Regions from separate parts of the Homo sapiens genome. Here region 1 is linked to region 2. The links come from fine-mapping of genetic effects on gene expression. A gene starts in region 2. The other region holds a variant in brackets. All regions are shown on one strand. Distances are between the middles of the regions.

The links. PIP is the estimated chance that this variant, and not a neighbour inherited with it, causes the effect.
Region 1: its variant is fine-mapped to the expression of SPATA25 in visceral fat (GTEx, PIP 0.98).

What each region holds. Positions count from the first base shown.
Region 1 is chr20:45,925,566-45,928,470 of GRCh38, forward strand. No RefSeq gene overlaps it. Among named protein-coding and RNA genes, the nearest start is that of PCIF1, 7.7 kb to the right of the region's middle. RefSeq lists an enhancer at 1,745-2,039. The variant GC/G (reference allele first, on the strand shown) is at 1,571.
Region 2 is chr20:45,886,633-45,889,460 of GRCh38, forward strand. It overlaps SPATA25 (spermatogenesis associated 25), which reads right to left and starts at 990. Exons shown (of 2, transcript NM_080608.4): 1 at 904-990; 2 at 1-513. The coding sequence starts at 958. NEURL2 (neuralized E3 ubiquitin protein ligase 2) reads right to left here. Exons shown (of 2, transcript NM_080749.4): 2 at 2,002-2,241. The coding sequence ends at 2,126. RefSeq lists enhancers at 1-201, 202-702.

The sequences.
Region 1 (2,905 bases), 39 kb after region 2:
AGACTCTAGGACAGGCCAAGGGAAGAAATGGAGGGAATAGTACACCACATCAGACGCTTCCAAGGCCAGGAAGACCAAGGGAGACGCCCCCATTCCTCTCATCTATTCTTGGCCTAAATGGCTTCTCTCATCTGGTCCCAGAATGGCCCAAGAGCCACTCCCTGTGGGAACCACAGTTTGGGGTGGAAGCCTCCTTTCCACAGCTTTCCGGGGGCCAGACCCACTTGCCTTGGAAACTCCCTTTGCATAATTTAAACTGCAGTGTAGGGTCCATGGCCAGCTCAAGCCCAGCCTAGGCGGGGGCAACCTGGAGTGGGATCCAGCTAGAGTCTCCCTTCCCCAGCTGCCAGGACCTCAGGGGATGAAAGTTCCCTCTCAGCAGCTTCTTGCTGCAGTGGCAGAGAACAAGGGGGTTAAGCTATGTGGCAACCTGAGCTGGTTGTTTATGTTTCTGCTTTAGTGTGGAGGCTTGGCTTTGTCCGGAGTTGAGGCAGGGGTCCTCAGAGGCCCTGGCAGCTAGTGACCAGCCAGGAGTGGTGACATAATTTTCAGGGCTAGGGCCGGACATGATGGGTCACGCCTGTAATCCCATCACTTTGGGGTGCCAAGGTGGGTGGATCACCTGAGGTTGGGAGTGTGAGACCAGACTTGCCAACATGGTGAAACCCCATCTCTACTAAAAATCTAAAAATTACCTGGACCCAGTGGCACGTGCCTGTAGTCCCAGCTACTGGGGAGGCTGAGGCAAGAGAATTGCTTGAACCTGGGAGGGGGAGGTTGCAGCGAGCCGAGATTGCACCACTGCACTCCAGCCTGGGTGACAGAGCAAGACGCTGTCTCAAAAAACAATATTCAGGGCTCAGGGCAAAATGAAAACGTGGGACTTTTGTTCCAAAATTATTAAGATTTTTAAGATGGTGACAGTAGAACATTAAACCAAACACAGACTTTTCTTTTTTATTATTATTTTTATTTTCATCTTGTTTTTATTTTTTGAGACAGGGTCTAGAGTGCAGTGGTGCAATCATGGCTCACTACAGCCTCGAACTCCTGGACTCAAGCAATCACCCCCTGCGTCAGCCTCCCAAGTAGCTAGGACTGCAGGAGCACCTACTATGCCCAGCTAATTATTACTATTATTATTTTATGTAGAGATGGGGTTCTATGTTGCACATGCTGGTCTTGAACTTTTGGCCACAAGCAATCCTCCCACTTTGGCATCCCAAAGTGCTGGGATTACAGGCATGAGCCTCCACACCCAGTAAGCATGGGCCTTTCTAAATCTATGCAGCCGGCCCTGGTGCCAGGGAGAGGAGCCCAGCTTATTCCAACCACCTCTCTCAGCCCAGACCTATTGTCTACCCAGGCTTCTTAGTTCAGAAAAGTAGCTGGAGAAATGGAAAGCCTTAGGATCTTTGCTCAACTGCTCATCCCTATATTGGGAATAAAAGACTCCAGGCTACTGACAGAGACTCGGCCACAGCAGGCAGCCCACAGGGTGCTGCCTTGGTGTTCCCACCACAGAAACCAGAGCCTGGAATAGAAACGGGGATACCTGGCCAGGCACAGT[GC/G]CTCACGCCTGTAATCCCACCACTTTGGGAGGCCGAGGCAGGCAGATTGCTTGAGGTCAGGAGTTCGAGGCCAGCCTGGTCAACACGGTGAAACCCCCATCTCTACTAAAAACACAAAAATTAGCTGGGCCTGGTGATGTGTGCCTTTAGTCACAGCTACTCCGGAGGCTGAGGCAGGAGAATCGCTTGAATCCTGGAGGCAGAGGTTACAGTGAGCCAAGATCACACCACTGCATTCCAGCCTGTGCGACAGAGGGAGATCCTGTCTCAAAAAATAAATAAATAAACGGGCTACCTGAAAAAGCCACCTAGACTTCAACCCAGAGTGGTCTGTTCATGGTCATCAAATATTTACAGAGGGTCAGGCACAGTACTGAGCATGGGGTTACAAGGGTGAATAAGCCCCAGGCCCCACCCTTAAGCAGCGCACAGCCTAGTGGATGAGGAAAATTGACAAACATTATGAGCTTAGACCATTGTGGTAGTACAAGAGAGGGAACCTGTCCTAGCCGGGGTAGAAGGAAGTTCAGGGAAGGCTGCCTGGTGGAGGCGACATCTAGGCTAAGACTCGAAGGCTGAATTAGGTCAAGAGGGGAAGAAGAGTAAGGGCAAACAGCATATGCAGAGACTCAGGAGCTGGACACGGTGGCTCATGCCTGAAATCCCAACACTTTGGGAGGCTGAAGCAGGAATATTCCTTGAGGCTAGGAGTTTGAGACCAGCCTGGGCAACATAGTGAGATCTTGTCTCTACAAAAAAAAAAAAAATTTAATGAGCCAGGTGTGGTGGTGGTGTGCTCCTGCAGTCCCAGCTACTTAGGGGGCTGAGGTAAGAGGATCACTTGAGCCTAGGAGGTCAAGGCTACAGTGAGCCTGGATACAAATGGAGACTCTGGCTCAAAAACGAACAAAACAAAGAAAGAAATAAACAAAAACACAAAGGATCAGGGTCATGAAAGAACCTGGCACATTTAGGGAAATTATGAAGTAGTTCATGGTAGCTGGGACTGGATCAAGAAGAGATGGTTTGAAGGTCCAGATCATGAATAAAATGAATGTGTGTAAAGTGCTTGACGTTGTGCATAGTAAATATTCTGCCATGGTAGCTCATTATAATTCTGGTTTTGTAGGCCAAATTAAGGGTTTGGGATTTTGTCCCGTAGTCAATGGGGAGACATTCAAGAGCTTTAAGCCCAGAGTGACTTGATGAGATTTGCTATATGGCCAGATCCCCGTGGCTCCTTGGTGGATTATGAACTAGAAGAGAAGCAAGGCTGGAGGATCAGAAGGCCACTTTGAAAATTAACAGGTATGGCCAAGCACAGTGGCTCACAC
Region 2 (2,828 bases):
CCGGATGGGCCATCATGAAAGCTTGAGCGGCCCAGATCAGGTCCTCTTCCCGAACTCCTGGGACGGGCACGGTGGGGATGCCAGCGATCATCATGGCGAGGGTGAGGATGCAGATATCAGGCTGGGAGCTGGCCTCCTTCCCCACTGCCTCAGAGGGTACCGGTAGAACCCGTGGTGACAGCCCACACAGCATCAGGGGCCTAGGCCTGCTGGGGCCACCCAGGTCAGGGGCTCTGCTTCTGGAGTAGCCATTGTCCCAGCCCAAGCTCTCCAGCTGCCTCACATGCGGGAATTTGTGGCAGTTTCGGCTGTATTCCTTCCGTAGTGTCTCCCAGCTAGTCCCCCCAGGGCAGCCCCTGGCTTGTGGCATTGCCAGGGCTGGGCCCCAGGCCTGGGCAGCAGGTGCCACCTGCTCAGCTTTCTGGCTCAGTGGGCCTGTTCCACCAGAGGCCACCACCACTGGCTCTACAGGACTACAGAGGCCAAGGGACAAGCCTGGAGAAGCAGCCCCACCTGCAGAGACAGGAATGAAATGGAACGTTATTCTCAGTTCTTTGAGGAGGGGGCCCTGAGGGGCAGGGCATGGGAGCAGAGCTTGGGGGCGTAACTAAGACCAGCCCCAGCGGACTGTCTAGAGGTTGGGAACTAGGTGTTACTCATATCCACACTCCCAGTCCCCAACACGGAGTAGGTGATGGAGAAGCGTTTGTTGAATTAATGAATAGTGAGCAAGCGGGTAGTTATTGATTGGCAAGGATGTTTGGAATGGCTTTTCTTCTAAAAGAATTGATTCTAGGGCCAGCCCCCAAATGCCCAGCAGAACCGCCACCTCCCCAGAGCCAGAAAGCAACTTCTCAGGGGAAGCTGCCGCACTCCCTCCAATTGCAGGTGCCCCCCGCTCACCTTGGCCGGAAGGCAGAGGACCTGGATGAGTTTGTGGAGTCCTGAAGTAGGACATGGCTTCCCCAAAGCCCCGGTTTGTGAGGGAATAGTGATCTGCCGCCTGTCCTCCCTTCTTCACCCTTCTAGAATGTCACCTCATAGACCCTCCCCTTCACACTTGGAATCCACTTTACAGCGTTGACCTATTCATTCTAGAACCTGGACATGACAATAGGATGAGGTTAAAAGAGCACCAGACCAGGAGCTGGGTGTTCTAGGTTCTTGCCCTAACCTTGAACGAGTCACCCAGATAGTTTTGTTCCTTGATATCCTTATCTGTAAAGTGTGTCTGATGACTGCCCACTACCTCATTAGGAGTTTTGAGGATGAAATGAGATCATTTGTATGGAAGCAGATGACCAGAGATGGAAACACAGGAGCCAAGTGCTTCGTGCCTTGTAGAGTAAGACTTCGGGTCAGACCCAGTATTGGTATTTTTCTTTTTCTTTTTTTGAGACAGAGTCTCACTTTGTCGCCATGACTGGAAGGCTGGAGTGCAGGAGCAAGACCTCAGCTCACTGCAACCTCTGCCTCCTGGGTTCATGCAATTCTCCTGCCTCAGCCTCCCGAGTAGCTGGGACTACAGGAACCTGCCACCACACCTGGCTAACTTTTGTATTTTTAGTAGAGACAGGGTTTCACCATGTTGGCCAGGCTGGTCTCAAACTCCTGACCTCAAGTGATCTGCCCACCTCGGCCTCCCAAAGTGCTGGGATTACAGGCCAGGTATTGGTATTTTTCAAAATTCCTCAAGTGATTATAATATATGACAAAGTTGGAACCTTTTTTCTAGGGACATACTTCTCAACCCTGGCTGTACATGAGAATCTCTTGAGAAGCTTTTACAAAACACAATGTCTAGGCCTAATTTCCCAACAAATCAAATACGAATCCCTAGGGATGGGATGTGGGACACCAGCACTCTTTACATATCCTAAGATGACTCTAACAAGCAGCCAGCCTAGGGACCCCTGCTCTTTTGCTCCGACCTGCTGACCTGCAGTGATTCTAAACGAAGTGACTCTCATAGGCTGTAGGGGCAAGGAGACCTTCCAGTGATCAAGATGTCAGCATCGGCTGTTTATTTCTGGTCTTGGCTGGCAGCAATGTGGCCAACTTCGGACCAGCCAGCCACAGGTCTGGGGCTCCAGGATGCAGCTGTGCTCTGGTGCACTGTGGGTCTTCACTCATACTTGCAGAAATCCTTAAGTTCTTTGGGCAGGTGGAGCCCATCAATGGCCAGCCGGTGCACCATGCTCCTTTGTATCACTAGGCGGCACAGAGTCTGCAGGGATGGCACTGTGGGAAGAAGACTGTGAAAGGCAAACTGAACTGGAGGGTGGGTCTGAGGCCAAGATCCAGAAGGTCTAGGTCATGGTCCCCACTTTGTCATTAAATGTGGGCAAGTCCTTACTGCTCTCTGGGCCCAGCCTGCTTCATGGGGCTGAGAGAAGCACCTCTTCCTGAGAGCTGCCACAAAGCTGCAGCCCTGTTTATATCATAACACTTAGCACAATCCCTTCCCCATTCACTTAGCAGCTTCTGGGGGCAGGGGTAGTGTCTGATTTGCCTGTGCAACTGAAGCCTCCAGCACAGGCCTGGCACAAAGAGGGTTCTGGTGCATTGAGTTCATGAAATGTGATGAGAGGTATAACTGCAATGCTTACCAGGGCTATAATGAATCATACTCAGCATTAAGAAGCTCTCAGTCTGGGGTTTGTTATGCCTCGAAGCCAATAGCCAATATGCCCAAGTCTATGAGCATGTTTCTTTCTTTTCTTTCTTTTTTTTTTTTTATTTAAAGAGAGAGGGTCTTGCTCTGTCACCCAGGCTGAAGTGCAGTGCTCAGTGAACTGCAGCCTTCAATTCTTGGGCTCAAGCGATCC